Linked DNA regions of Homo sapiens: region 2 is linked to region 1. A link means that fine-mapping ties the variant in region 1 to the expression of a gene that starts in the linked region. Tissue or cell type: transverse colon. Region 1 holds a variant in brackets; the other region holds the start of a gene. All regions are shown on one strand. Distances are from middle to middle.

The links. PIP is the estimated chance that this variant, and not a neighbour inherited with it, causes the effect.
Region 2: it holds the start of MPEG1, and the variant in region 1 is fine-mapped to the expression of MPEG1 in transverse colon (GTEx, PIP 0.94).

What each region holds. Positions count from the first base shown.
Region 1 is chr11:59,814,449-59,822,556 of GRCh38, forward strand. No RefSeq gene overlaps it. Among named protein-coding and RNA genes, the nearest start is that of MRPL16, 7.7 kb to the left of the region's middle. The variant A/G (reference allele first, on the strand shown) is at 3,152.
Region 2 is chr11:59,208,346-59,216,453 of GRCh38, forward strand. It overlaps MPEG1 (macrophage expressed 1), which reads right to left and starts at 4,582. Exons shown (of 1, transcript NM_001039396.2): 1 at 165-4,582. The coding sequence starts at 4,520. The coding sequence ends at 2,370. DTX4 (deltex E3 ubiquitin ligase 4) reads left to right here. Exons shown (of 9, transcript NM_015177.2): 9 at 1-243. It also overlaps the pseudogene RN7SL42P. RefSeq lists an enhancer at 4,559-4,758.

The DNA.
Region 1 (8,108 bases):
TTTTTTAAACAAGGTTGAGGATGTGTGCCCATGACACAGCCTCAGGAGGTCCCGATGACATGTGCCCAAGGTGGTTAGAGCACAGTTTGATTTTATACACTTTAGTGGGAGATGAGACATCAGTCAACATATGTAAGATAAACATTGGTTTGGTCTGGAAAGGCTGTACAACTCAAAATGGGGAGGGGACTTCCAGGTCATAGGTAGATAAGAGACAAATGGTTGCATTCTTTTGAGTTTCTGACTAGCCTCTCCAAAGGAGACAATCAGATATGTATTTATCCCAGTGAGGAAAGAGGTGACTTTGAATAGAATGGGAGGCAGATTGGCCCTAAGCAGTTCCCAGCTTGACTTTTCCGTTTAGGTTAGTGATTTGGGGGTTCCAAGATTTATTTTTCTTTCACATTTTCCCCCTTTTCTTTTATTAAAATGTTTTGGAGAGATCATTTTATGAGGTTTGACAATGTGATGCTTTTATGGTGCACTTAAAAAAATTTTTTTAATGAACACATATCTTAGTGTCTAAACCACGCTGTTCCTTAAAAACAGAGTAAGCTCTGTTGCAGTTAACTATTTTAGTCAAAAAAACCAAAACAAAACAGGTAACACAATACAAAAGCAAACAGTTTAAGAGCTGAGATGAACTTGTCTGTTTACGTTCTTGGGGTCCCATAAGAAAAACAGGTTTCTCCCCCAAAGGGAGTCTGGCACTTTCTCAGTTTTCTTTAAGGAACCCCAGGCTATTATTAAACTATTTTAGGTCCCCTATGCAGCAGAGGGGGCAAGATAAAGGAGAGACAGAAGTAAATGAAGAAACCAGAATTCAGTCAACTGAGTGGGAAAAAACTTTTGCTCAAAAAAAGACAGGGTCCTAGGAGAAAAACAAAACAAAAATGTGAGGGCCTTTTAAATACAAACACATCCACCTGCACACATACATATACACATCTTGGATGTTAGCTTCTAATTAGGGTGACTTTTAACCATTGAGCTCCTTTTAAAATAGATGTTTTTAAATCTTATTACTGTATTTCTGTTCTTTCAGAAGTACAGCCATTGCTCTTTCAGTTTGGCTTGGCTAGCAAAAGGGTGGCCTTGTTATGTAAATAAAGCTCCTTAAGTAGTCAAAATAAAAAATCTTTTCTTTTTTTTTTTTTTTATGGGAATTTAGCCACTTCAGAGGCCTCGTTCCCCATAATTTGGAACATTCCCTTGGATTTGATCAAGTTGGATAGAATTGGTCACACCCAGTGGGAAAAGACTGAAACAACAACAAAAACAGAAACAAACAACAACAACAACAACAAAAACCAGTTAAGCAAAACAAGTGATCGCACAACTTATGTGATCACTGAGCACTCTAATGGTAAGGAGAAATTAAGACCAGTTGGTTGTTAATTTTAACTTTATCCAAGACAAATCCCAATTCAGTTACTTACCCAGGGGTGGCTCTCAGGCTGAAGACTGCTCTTTACTATCCTAGAAGCAGCAAAAAACCCCCTTCATCTTCCCTGTTGGAAGTAGCTCAAATTCCATAAAGGAGTTACCTACCTTCCATTGTTATGGAAGCAGGAAAAACTTGCCTTCCTTGTGTTGGAAGCAAGTAAAACTCCAAAAAAAAAGGGGGGGGGGTTTATACAGCAAAATAAACTTTAGATCTTGACCAAATTTTGGGAGATCAGGGATTCTCTGGAGGGGGTGCTCCCAGACCTCAGCAAATTGTCCTTTTGGTTTGAGCCATTAAGTTAGCTCATGCTGGTACCAAGGACCGATAGATTTGTCAAAGGTAAGAGGCACCTCCACTCAGAATCCCCCTGTGGTTACCAAAATGTGAACCCTGAAAAATCTGAGACAGGTCTCAGTTAATTTAGAAAGTTTATTTTAACAGGGTTGAGGATGCGTGCCTGTGACACAGCCTCTGGAGGCCCTGACGACATGTACCCAAGTTGGTCACAGCACAGTTTGGCTTTACACATTTTAGGGAGACATGAGACATCAATCAACACATGTAAGATGAACATTGGTTCAGTCTGGAAAGGCTGTACAACTCAAAGTGGGGAAGGGGCTTCCAGGTCACAGGTAGATAAAAGACAAATGGTTGCATTCTTTTGAGTTTCTGACTAGCCTCTCCAAATGAGGCAATCAGATATGCATTTATCTCAGTGAGCAGAGGGGTGACTTTGATTAGAATGAGAGGCAGGTTGGCCCTAAACAGTTCCCAGCTTGACTTTTCCCTTTAGATTAGTGATTCTGGGGGCCCAAGATATTTTTCTTTCACAAAACCATACAGGAAAAGTTCCACAACATTGGCGTGAGAATGAATTTTTGGAAATGACCTCAAAAGCACAGACAACAAAAGCAAAAATAGACAAATGGGATGACATCAAAGTAAAAAGCTTTTACACAGCAATGGAAATAACTGACAAAATGAAGAGACAACAGACAGAATGGGAGAAAACGTTTACAAATTAAACAGCAGGGGTTAATATTAAAAATGTATAAGGAACTCAGCTCAACAGCAAGAAAACAAATAACCCATTTAAAAAATAAGCAAAGGACCTAAACAGACATTTCTCAAAAGAGGACCAACAAAGAGCTAACAGGTACATGCAAAAATGCTAAGCATCGCTAATCATTAGGGAAATGCAAATTAAAACCACAATGGGATATCACCTCACACCTGTTAAAATGGCAATTATCAAAAAGATGAAAGATAATACGTTGGCAAGTATGTGGAGAAAATGATGTAACTCTTGTACATTGTTAGTGGGAATGAAAATTAGTACATTATTGTTGTAGAAAATGGGATGGAAGTTCCTCAAAAAACTGTGTGTGTGTGTGTGTGTGTGTTTGTGTATGCATGCATGTGCATGTACACTATCTTTTAATACACCACTTGGGTTTTTGCTGATCAAAATGTAACCACAATGTCATAATAAATTACCTTGAAACTTCTTCACTCCAAGTGTGCAGAGCTCCTCAAGGGACTTGTTAATGTTAGTTTCCTCATCAATTTAGCTTCTACGGACCGATTGTGGTGGCTCATGCCTGTAATCCCTGCACTTTGGGAGGCCAAGGTGGGTGGATTACTTGAGCTCAGGAGTTCGGGACCGGCGGGGCCAACATGGTAAAACCCCGTCTCTACTAAAAT[A/G]CAAAAATTAGCTGGGTGTGGTGGTGCGTACCTGTAATCCCAGCTACTCGGAAAGCTGAGGCAGGAGAATTACTTGAACCCAGGAGGCAGTGGTTGTAGTGAGCCGAGATTGTGCCACTGCACTCCAGCCTGGGTGACAGAGTGAGACTCCATCTCAAAAAAAAAAAAGAAAAGAAAAGAAAAAAAATTAGCTTCTACATGCTTTAGAGCATTTGTAAAAGGGCAATGATACCATAGATTTTGCCAGAACAAAAAACAATATTCTCTAATAAAATATTAACCATTAACATATTAGCATGATTTACTCTTTACAAAGGACTTTCACATGCACATAGATTATTTTACTGGAATCCTATTATGTACATGATAATGGTGGATATAACACACAGAAATCATTAAGATTATTAAGATCATTGCACAGAGCTGGGATTTCCATTCAAGTGTCTATTCATTCAACAAACATCTCTTGAGCATCTACTATAGTGCCATGAGCAAAATTAATGTGTCTACACTTATTCCAGAGGTTTCAAGGTAAATTAAATTCAGTCTCAACTGGAAGAGTTACTGAAGTTTTACAAGAAAGCCATTTCAGCTGTTCTCATCTATTAAGTCAACAGGTGCAAAAAATGCATCAACTCTTTAATTGTGTGACCAAGAAGAAAGAACAATGCCAATTAATCTTATTGTTTTCTGTCTCAGTATTCATGGGCTATATTAAAGTATTTCTATGAATGTGTTCATCATAATGAATCATTATTGCTGCTCAGTTAAATTATTTACAAATCTGTTATTATAGGCCATGCTGCAATAAGCAGCCTTGTACATTTTTGTTATTTTGTATTTCTTTTGGGCACTTTCAAAAGGAGAAATTTATGGATCAAAGGGAATGTTCATTTTATGTCTTTTGACTTTATACAGTTGTGCAAAATTGGCCTCCATGATCAGAGTGTTTTCTTGATCAACACCCTTGCTAAAGAAGGATATTATAATTTTTCTACGGCTTTGCCAATATGAAAGGTGAAAAACACCACTCGGTGTTACATTTATAACAGGTTGTTAAAATGCGATTGTTTCTGCCTCAGTTTTGCTTGGGACCACAAGGTAATCTCCACATTTCACAGTGAGGTGCTGGGCCTTTTAGGCAGTTTATGCAGCAGGTGGTAGGAACTGGCTTTGCTATTTTTAGCTGCCCATTCTCTGCCAGCCTGTAAAAAACACTAGAAAAGCCAAGAAAGGAAGTGGAGACTGGAGATTATAATAAAGATTTCGTTAACACAGTTGTTGGTGTACTGTGAGTTTCATGCCTTCCCCTCTTCAATGGCAAGGGTTGGGGGGTGCTCCATCAAGCCCAGTGAAAGACATTTCTAGATCATTCAGAGAGTTTAATATAATTCTTCTGCAGTTTAAGGGACAGTGGGCTTTGGGGTTTGACACTGGCTTGAGAAAATGATATGTTTGGAGGCTGGTAGAAGCTGCCTGTGGCATCAAAAGTAGAGAGCTGCAGTTGCGAAGTAGCCACATTTCCATTGATGGTGGGGCAAAGGCATGCATGTCCTGTTGACTAGGTGTGGACTCCATGACTAGGTGTGGACTCCTGTGTAGAGTGCCAAGGTAGGGTTTCTTACATCAACAGAACTGCATCAAAGACAGGGAGAAAGAAGTTGGAGTAGGTGTGATGATGGATGTCCTGGGCCTGAGGGAAGAATTGTGTGCAACCAGCCAACAACTCAGCAGAGATGAATTTGCCTGCATCAAGGGAACAGCAGATGAGAGATCCACAGCAGGTGTGTGTGTGTGTCCGAGTGTGTGTGTGTTTGTGCATGTGAAACATTTGATATCTTGAAGTCCTGACCCCTTGTACTTCAGAATGTCAAAGAGAGGTCCTGGAAAAGATCCTTCCTCACAGCCCTTAGAAGTGACAAGCCACCCTGCAGACACCTTGATTTCAGACTTCCAGCCTCCAGAACAGTGAGGCAATAAGATTCTGTTGTTTAAGCCACCCAGTGTATGGTACTTTGTTTGTTTAGAGACAGGATATCACTATTAAAGCACCCTCTTTCTCTCATGAGTGCTTTATGAATTCTTCTTTAAGAAGGAAAGTACTGCTGAGTGCTGTATTCGTTTCCTAGAGCTGCCATGACAAAGTATCACAGGCTGGACACAGTGGCTCACACCTGTAAGCCAGCACTTTGGGAGGCTGAGGTGGGAGAATTGCTTGAGTCCAGGACTTTAAGAACAGCCTGGGCAACAGAGTGACACCCTGTCTCTAACAAACAAACAAACAAACACATACACAAACACACAAACGAACACAAAACAAAGTACCACACACTGGGCGGCTTAAACAACAGAATCTTATTGCCTCACTGTTCTGGAGGCTGGAAGTCTGAAATCAAGGTGTCTGTGGGGTTGCTTGCTGCTTCTAAGGGCTGTGAGGAAGGATCTTTTCCAGGCCTCTCTTTAGCGTGGAGATGACCGTCTTCTTCCTACATCTCTTCACATCATCTTTCTTCTGTATATGTCTGTCTGTGTGAATGCAAATTTCAGCGAATTGGATTAGAGCCCATCCTAATGACCTCATTTTAACTTGATTACCACTGTAAAAATACTGTCTCCAAATAAGGTTACATTCTGAAGTGCTAGGGGTTAGGTCTTCAAGATGATATATTTTTTGAGGGATCCTATTCAGCTCACATCAGGTGCCACCATCCCAGAGGCATCGTAAATAGTGAGAGACTGGGGATAGGAAAGATCTTACCTGATTAGTAAAAGTGCAAGATGAGGAAACAGGTTCACCCCATGCTCCCCATTTTGTTTTTACTATTATCTCTTTGTCTGAAGCAGGGCCGAGCTGGGGGAGGAGAGTCACTTTTCTTTTAAATGGAATTCAGAGTTGTGACTGTTACACAGAATCAGACGTTTTAGGTCCTGAAGTGAGAATGTTTTCTGTGATTAGAAGTGACAACACAACTTTTTAATTTTTATGTTTTAAATAAGAGAGTAATGAGAAAATACAAAAACCAAACAAAAAAAAAAAACACACACAAAAAATCAAACCCAACCCAGCCTCACAGAGTTGATTTGGATAACCAGTAGTAAACTAAAGTTGATTTCTGATGACGTTCTCTGAATTTTACTTAATATAACCTACATACTGATTATAGGTTAGTTTGCATTTCCTTAATGATAAGTGATGTCAAATTTTTTCTCATGTCCTTGATTTCACATATTTTTGTCTATTTGTTTTCTGTATGTGTGATTTGCTTGTATACTTAGTCCATTTTTTAATTATTTTGCTTTTTTTCTTATCAATTCAAAATTGCTTATGTATTAAGTATATTACCTCCTATTAGGTTGTATATGTTTTATTTTTATTTATTTATTTTTTTTGAGACGGAGTTTCACTCTTGTCATCCAGGCTGGAGTGCAGTGGGGTGATCTCAGCTCACTGCAAACTCTGTCTCCCAGGTTCAAGTGATTCTTCTGCCTTAGCGTCCTGAGTAGCTGGGATTACAGGTGCCCACCACCAGGCCCAGCCAATTTTTGTATTTTTAGTAGAGACGAGTCTTCACCATATAGGCCATGCTGGTCTTGAATCCCTGACCTCAGGTGATCCACTGGCGTCGGCCTCCCAAAGTGCTGGGATTACAGGCATGAGCCACTGTGCCCAGCTGGTTGTATATTTTCATTTTTTTCAGTTTTCAATATATCTTGATTGTTTTTGAAGTAGGACCATTTATAATTTTTATGCAGTAAAATCTGTCAGTAATAGTCTTAAGAATTTTGACTTTCAGCCAGGTGCAGTGTCTCATGCCTGTAATCCCAACACTTTGGGAGGCTGAGATGAGTATTGCCTGAGCCCAGGAGTCCAAGACTGGCTTGGGCAAAACAGCAAGAGTCCATCTCTACAAAAATAAAATATTGGCCAGACTTGGAGGCTCATGCCTGTACTCCCTGTTGCTTGAGACGCTGAGGCAAGAGGATTGCTTGAGCCCAGGAGGCTGAGGCTGCAGTGAGCTGTGATTGTGCCACTGCACTCCAGCTTGGGCGACATAATAAGACCCTGTCTCAGAAAAAAAAAAAAGAAAGAAAAAGAATAAGTCAAATATATTAATAATAATATTAATATTTGACTTACTTTGATAATTCAAAATATATTGATACTGCTTATAAAGGCCAGAGGTAGGGATATAACATAATTCTTTCTCAAAGTTGAAAATTCTCATTTAATATGTGACTTTATTTATTTATTTATTTTTTGAGACAGAGTCTCACTCTGTCGCCCAGGCTGGAGTGCAGTGGCGCGATCTCGGCTCACTGCAAGCTCTGCATCCCGGGTTCATGCCATTCTCCTGCCTCAGCCTCCTGAGTAGCTGGGACTACAGGTGCCCACCCCCATGCCCGGCTAATTTTTTGTATTTTTAGTAGAGAGGGGGTTTCACCGTGTTAGCCAGAATGGTCTCGATCTCCTGACTTTGTGATCCACCTGCCTCGGCCAATCAAAGTGCTGGGATTACAGGCGTGACCCACCGCGCCCGGCCTATTTATTTTTATTTTTTATTTTTTTGAGACAGAATCTTGTTCTTTTGCCTAGGCTGGAGTGCAGTGGCGTGATCTCTGCTCACTGCAGCCTCCGCCTCCCAGATTCAAGTGATTCTCCTGCCTCAGCCTCCAGAGTGGCTGGGATTATAGGCGCATGCCACTATGCCTGACTAATTTTTGTAGTTTTAGTAGAGATGGGGTTTCACCATATTGGCCAGACTGGTCTTGAACTTCTGACCTCAAATAGTTCATCTGCCTCAACCTCCCAAAGTGCTAGGATTACAGGCGTGAGCCACCGGGCCTGGCCTTAATATGTGACTTTATAATGTACTAAATTCTCACAGCTTTCGGGAGTTCCTTTTGACATTTTCTTCCATTCACATGCTCTGAGACTGGTGCTACATTGTTTTAGTCA
Region 2 (8,108 bases), 610 kb before region 1:
TGACCTGGCTAGACTTTGTTTGCCTAAAGGAACAGACCACATTGCTGGGAAAATGAGTAAGTGAACGTGTGGGAGAAAAACACTTTTAGAATCACGAATATTCACTTTTAAAGGTCTCTTTGCCTGGCTGCAATATAGTGTGTGTTTAAATTATTTACAGGCTGTTGTTTCTCAAATAAATGTTTAATATTAATCATTCCCAAACTGACAAGAACACAAAAATAAAATGCAAATACAGAGCCAGCTTTGTCACCCAAATCTGTGTCTATTTCTGATAGTCCATGGAATGTGGTTTTCTTGGAAGCCAGGGTTGGTCTCCCCACAGACCCCAGGCTAAGGTCACCAGTTAGGAACCCAGGACTTGGAAGGCAGAGCCTGTGAGCTCTTCCATCAGGGATCTGACTCCGCAAAACGACTTGATGAATGCAATTGGCAAACTCCCATGTTCGGACTTCATATGCATGAGCCGTTGGACAGAGGGTTTCTTAGTATATACTTTAATGCATGTTTATGTGCAATCTTGTTAGTGGGTATACAAGTTTGTGAAGAACTTCTCATTTCAATAGGCAGTTAATGTAATGCATTAAAAGCCTGGGAATTTGGGGCTATATTTTTCCTTTCTGACTCAATAATCTTCAAAGAATTCATAGGAAAGTCAGTACTTGCAGACAAGTGGTTAGCTTGGCTAAAATGTACAAAACACCCAGAACCCACAAAACACTCAGAGGTTTAGGAGAATGTTTTAATGCTTAAGAGGCAGGATCAAGTGAAGAGGTTACAGAAATCAGTGTCTCTGGCTGGGCAGTCAAGAGAGCGGGCTCAAATTCTGTGACTCACTTCTCTGTGTCTCGGTTGGAAATGAATGGGTATCCTGGTTCCCACCTTCCCACACACTGTGATACTTCAAACTCCTTGGGTGAAGGGCCTCTTCTCAGCCCAAGATCTTGATTGTGAACATTAACAAAGAGAACAGTCATCCTCCACAGAAGATAACTCATTAATGACATTTGATTCAGTGAATAAATATATCATTTAAAAAAATATTGTAGGGGGATCATGAAAGTAGTGGAGGTAATTACAATCAGGAGAGATTGGTATTAAAATTGAGCAAAGTCCCAACTCTCACCAGATGACAATTATGCATCCTGCTAGATGCCCCAGGGCTGTCAGCCTGGAACTGAAATAAATGTGTTATAAGTGGTGCTGGATGCCTTTTTCAGTTCATTTGAAAACATGGATTTGATCATGTCAGCTCCCTTTCTGCTGGAAAAAAAAGTAGTTTGCATAATTGGTGTTAACTACTCTGTTTTGATTCTACAGAGTAAGTAATACTCAAATGTGGTCTTACTTTAACTTCTTGCCTTTGTTACCCCCAGAACCATGCAGACATTGAAATGTGGTGTGCGTGTGTGTGTGTGTGTGTGTGTGTGTGTGTGTTCATATAACAGGAGGACAGGAAAGGTAAGGACCCAGAACAATGAAGACTTATTGAAATGTGGTATGTGTGTGCGTGTGTGTGTGTGTGTGTGTGTGTGTGTGTGTGTGTGTTCATATAACAGGAGGACAGGAAAGGTAATGACCATCCATGGAAGATGAAGGGGTAGTACTTAGCACCAGAATCTTTTCCAGTTTTTACCCATCTTTCATTACTCCTTGTCTCCAAATCATCCCTTCCTTAATAACTTAAAATAACTTAAAATATTTTCTGAGGACTTGATGACACCAGTCAGAAGTCCAAGAGTGGTCTGGTATAAGGGAGTGTTCATCAAGGGGCAGCTGGAAAAAGTGGAATTGGCACAGGCAACATCTTTCTTTTCAGATGTTTGAGGTCACCCAGAGGAGATAACAGTCTGTCAACATAGAGCCCTCAAAGTTAAAAAGCAGTAGCCAGGCAAGACTTGTGTCTTTTCAGGGCTCTTCCAGGCTCTAAGAGTGTGAAATTCAGACAGGTTTTTAAAAATCAAAATAAAAGGAGAGTAGTTCTTACAGGCAGAAACTCTTAGAGCTCACAAATTGGAAACAACTGCAAACTTCAGAGTAAATTCATAGCTTCCAAATACAAATGTTCACATTGTCCCTCCGCTATTTTTACACAAATGCATTCAGGTGAAGACAGCAACACACATTGGGAAAGGACATCTGCTTCCTATTTTAGTCCCAGAATCACTTTTGCTTCTAGTCCCAACTGTTCCCTCTCCCCAATCCCAACCTTATCCATGTAACAGTATGAATTTCCTGGCCCAGAGACCTAAACAAGAAGTCACGAATATACCTACTTTTGGTTGCACTTGCCATTTCAATGCTTAGGAAAACAGAGTGGTCAGCAATGACCACACTGGAGATGAGAGAAACCATTTTCGGGGAGAGATTTAAGCTGGACTCTGCCCCTGCTCTTGGTAAGTGGTGTCTCCAGTTGCTGCAGTGCCTGGAACCAAACTCTGCCTTTCCTCAATTGCCTGATATGCTTTCTTCTTGAACTTCCGGGTGCCGTAGATGGCCAAGGTGATAACAACAGCCAGAATGGTGGTGACCCCCACTGTGACCCCAGCTGCAGCCCCTCCTGACAGACCACCACCATCCCCATGGATGACATTCATGGCCCTCCGCAGCTCTATCGGTTCTCCCAGCCTCCACTGGTGGGTCTGGGAGTCTTTAATCCAGGATCTCGCATTCTCAGAATTGGTCACTATGACAGTATTGGTGGCAGCCTGACTCATGAGGGGTGGCCGGGTGAAAGGTGGGAGCCTGGCAGGGGGCAGGGACCCTCCTGTGAAGAGCCCGGATTTGACGCAATAGGACACTTGGCATCCATCGCTGATGAGGGCTGGGTGCTGGCTGAAGCCCCCGGGGCACTTTTTCAGAGACGGTGCCCCTAAATCTCTGGATATAGCAGGATCTACCAGGGGGTTCCCAACTGTGCAGCTAAAGAACCCGCCAAAGGGGACCGCAAACCTGCTTCCCAACTCATAGTCCTGAGAAACACATACCTTGAGGTTTTCAAAGAGTCTCAGTGGAAAGTAGCCGGCTGGGCATGACTGTGCATTTGTCATGGGGTTTATGCTCTTGCTGCTGAAGAGGCCCCCAAAAAGCAGTCCTGAGTTTTCAGGTACTTGGCTGCTGGCCACACACCAAAAAGCCCTAAATTCAGCTTTTGCCACCTGGAACACATCTTCACACACGGTCTTGCAGAAGACGAGGAGAGTGCACTTTCGATGACACTCCAGGTGGTTGTAACCCTCCTCGTGGATCTGGGATAACAGGTGCACCGGGGAGTAGCCAGAGGGGCAGGAGAAATCACCAGTGAGTGGATTCTTCTGCTCCAACTTTTGGCAGAGGAGGACATCCCTATTCCCTGAGAGCTGAGTGCATTCCTGATAAACCCCACCGAAAGAGAAGTTGGTCATTTTCCCCTCGCAGGAGCCATCATCCGTGTTGGCCTGAAAATTGAAGTTGGGAGAATTGAGATCTGTGCAGCCAGGGTAGGTGTTGAATGTATAATAGCGCTTCACAGCAGTTTCCACTGTCTTTGACACCTTCTTCACCAGGGGGCCTGGCAAGTCAGGTAGCATGTTGGGGTTGATGAAGAAATGCAGCGGCAGGCCAGAGCGGTCGATGGCCACCAGGTGGTTGGTGATACCCTGCTGCCAGGCCTGGAGGGTGATGCCTGGGTAAAAAGGAACCCCTCCAATGCTCTGCACCCTGGAGTTGGTTCGGTTTGAGAGGTAGCTCTTGGTGAGGACATTCTGCGAGGTATAGTTTTCCTCAAATTTGAAGTTCACGGTGTTTTGAAAGGCAAGTCCAGCAGAGGCGGTCACGGCACTACGACTGCTCTGGCTGTCTTGGAGGAAGGAGGCCCTGAGGTGGTCCTCCTGAATAAGAGCAGCCCCAGCGTCGACACTGGTGGTGACGTGGGTGCCATAGTTGAGCACCAGGAGTTCTGCCAGGTAGGTGGCCATCCTCGTCTGGTTGTTCTCTAGACGGTCAGAGATGTCAAGGAGTTCCTTCCTAAAACCTGAGCTTAGCTCTAAAGTTGGGTTGATTTTGACTGTGTAGACGAGGTTTCTTACCTGAACTCGGGTAGTTATAGCTTGGTCCTTCACTTGGAGGGTCTTCATCCTCTGGAACTCAGTGGAAAACTTGCCATTGACTTTGGAAAAAAGAGAGAGTTCTGTGTTGATGGAGTAGGAGGTGCTACTCTGGTAATTTGCCCAGGATTCCAGGATTTCTGAGTTCATCTCCAGGTTGCTCTGTTTCTGGGGAATGGTGAAGATTTCATCAGGGATGATATACTGTCCATCCTCTGTTGTCCTGCAGTTGGAGTAAGTCAATTCCATAACTCGTCCCATGTCCACATTCCGCAGATTGTCCCAGCCCCCTCCAGGTAGGACTTCCAGGACAGGTAGTTTCAAGGCATTCTTGCATTTTTGAACTCCAACTTCGTCCATCTCTCCCGAAGGCTTGCCTGATTTAGCCCATGCTGCCGCTGCCCAGAAGAGGATGGTGGCCCTGAAGTTGTTCATGGCTCAGACAGCCCCAGCCACTCACCAGCCCTACACAGCGGCCAGCAAGCTTTGGGCAAACTAAGATGGAGAAAACAGAAGCAGATGATGAAGCGGAAAACTCATGAGTTCTCTAAAAGCTACAAGTTCCTCTTTAAGCTAATTTAATGACAAAATGGGGAAACGAGAGTTGGTTGGAATATTAAAGACCATCAGGTCTTTGAAGAATTTATGCCGTACTAAACATGCAAACACACCCCTACATGCCTAACAGGTAGCTATCCTAATTTTTCCCCCAGCTCTGGCTGGTTACTCTGCTGCAGGGGTGTGCACTTAGAAAAAAATCCCGACCCCACACCCTACTGCTTCCTCCACCAGAAAGTTTGGCTTTGCTTTTTGCTCATTCTCTTGGACTTGATGTTTCATATTTTCCCTGACTGCTGTCTCTTGGGACTCCATTATCAGTTTTCTTTTACTATAAATGCAGAGGCAAATGACCACACCACCCTTACTGAAACACCCTGGCTCCACCATACCTATGCAAGCTGTTAGTCAAGGCCAACCCTGGGTTTCCTCTTTGCCTGAGGGTGGAGGCTGTTTCCACAAAAGAAAGGAGTGAAACTCTTGGACACTTGTCCTGTGGGTTTCACTGTTATGAACCATAGCAATTCTGTCTTTGGGGATGGCATTGTCTGGAGCACAGCTGACAGGGCCTGAAGAGGATTCGGTTGCAATATGCTGGGAAACCCCAATTTGCATTGTCCTAAGCATTCAAAGCGAGGGCAAGGAACTCCTACACTGTGTTGTTTTCATTCAGATAGAAATGTTCAAGACAAAACCACACTATTATCTAGATTTTGATTTATCAACAGCAGACAGGGGCCAAGGAACATATGTGTATGTGTACACACATTTATATATCCTCTGTGTGTGTGCATTTTGTATGAAGTTGGTACCTGTTATACCTTTAATTTTTTGTTCCATTGCTAAGTGTGTGTAATCAGTTTAGGTGGATAAAAAAGAATGTGGCTCTTCACTACCCAATATTTTTTCTAAAAGCAAAAATTCATTTGCTATATCATTAGAAGAATATAATTACATGAGTTTCTTTTCAAGTTCCAATGCCAGCTCTATTAGAGCCCATAATTTAAAACAATGGTGACAGGTTTGATTGAAACCCAACTCTGTTAATTCTTTGGGACAATTAGGCTATGTCTTAGTATGCTTAGTGGTAGCCAGGGAATCCAGAGGACTTAGTGAAGCTCCCAGTTGCATCCTTAACATTCCCAAGATTATACCATGAACTAGATACAGTACTGAGACTGAAAAAGTCATGTTGCAATTCACAGGTATCACTACACCATCACCTGTATGCATCCTGGAAGGAAGGTTCCAAGGAGTTGAATTCCTCTGTTGGTTATTAATGCAGCAAAGAAGTGTTTTTAGAAAGAATGAGGCTAGTTATCTTGCTTCCCAGGCTGGGCTTCACCAGTTATTATCAAAACCATGATGGTGTTCTATAAATCTAGAAATACTGCATTCCGGGTATATTTTTTTTTCCAAGACAGGGTCTTGCTTATTGCCCAGGCTTGAGTGCAGTAGCTATTCACAGGCATGGTCCCACTACTAATCAGCATAGGAGTTTTGACCTGCTCCATTTCCAACCTGGACCCGTTTAGCCCTCCTTAGGCAACCTGGTGATTTGCTCCAAGGAGGCCACCATATTGATGCTGAGCTTAGTGCAGACACCCAACTGGCATAGCACACTACAGCCCAGAACTCATGGATTCAAGCAATCCTCCCACATCAGCTTCCCAGGAATCTGGGACTGCAGTCATGCACCACCACACCTGGCCATTCTGGTTCTATTTGTGCCACAGTTATCATGCTTCTGGGAAGTGACACCAGCCACCTAAGAGGGATTAATTTATGAACCAGTGCCTAGTCTGTATTTGGCTAAAGAACCAAATCTTTGCACAGGATGTTCTAGTTAATTTATAAATCAGTTAGCCATAAATTTATACCTCAGCAGCATGATCCCAGAATTAGAAAAATGAGAGTTGAATGCCCTTGAGTACTTCCAATAAGTCTGTTGAAATACCTACATACTTCTCTTCAAACTATTTCTGGGATGGTTCATCAAAATTAGAATACTCTCACACTGCTTTGGAGACAAGCTGACAATTTGTTACCCTCTGCTTTCTCTTTAGTAGACCCTGTTGAGAGCTCACTCTCCTGAAATGAGAATACAAGCAAGGTTAATACAGACAATTCTATATTCAGGTGTTCCTATGTCTCCAGACGTCTAGTCACTGTATTTTTTATTCTATAGACTTTGTCTTCATTTTATCATAGGAAAAAAAAATTGAAAATAGCAGAAAGAGCCAACAACGGTAAAATTACATTGTACCCATAAGACAAAATATTGTATAGCCATCACAATTATTTAAAACTATTTTAATAACATGAGAAATTCTTATGCCATAATGTTACTGGAAAGGGTTCCCAATGCAGACCTCAAGAGAGAGTTCTTGGACTTTGTGCAAGAAGGACCAGGGCAAGTCCACAGAGTAAGGTGAAAGTAAGTTTATTAGAGAAGTAAAGAAACAAAAGAATGGCTACTCCATAGGCAGAGCAGAAGTATGTGCTGCTTGATTAAGGATACTTATCATTATTTCTTAATTATATGCTAAACAAGGGGTGGATTAATCATGAGTTTTCTGGGAAAGAGGTGGGCAATTCCCAGAACTAAGGGTTCCTCTCCTTTTTAGACTATACAGGGTAACTTCTGGAAATTGGCAGTCATGGCACTGGTGGAAACATCTTTTAGCATGCGAATGCACTACAATTAGTGTATAATGAACAATGAGGATGACCAGAGTTCACTCTTGTCGCCATCTTAGTTTTGGTGGGTTTTGGCTGCCTTCTTTACTGCATGCTCTTTTATCAGAAAGATCTTTGTGATCTGTATCTGTATCTTATGCCAATCTTCTATCTCATCCCATGACTTAGAATACTTAACCCTCTGGGAATGCAGCCCAGCCTTCTTTTACCCAGCCCCTATTCGAGATGGAGTTATTCTGGTTCAAATATCTCTGACAATAATGTTATGAAAAAAAAGAATGATAAACATTCAGCATGACCCCAACTATGTACATAACTAGAGGGATGTACGCCAATGCATAGACAGTAATTACATCTGGTTGAGAGGTTTTTCTAAATTATTTTAATTTTTTCCTCTTTTCTGTGTTTTTTGAGTTTTCAACAATGAGCATGTATTTATTAACTCGAGAAATTTGTATTCAGAGCCTATTAAGTACCAAACACTGATGGGTATTGGGTAATCATCACTTTTGTGCTCAGGAAAATAACCAATGCACAACCATGTAAAAAAAAAACAAAAGAAACAGGCCAGGCAGGGTGGCTCATGCCTGTAATCCCAGCACTTTGGGAATCCGAGGTGGATGGATCACTTGAGGCCGGGAGTTCAAGACCAGCCTGGCCAACATGGAGAAACCACATCTCTACTAAAAATACAAAAAAATTAGCCAGATGTAGTGGTGACACACAACTGTAATCCCAGCTACTTGGGAGGCTGAGGCAGGAGAA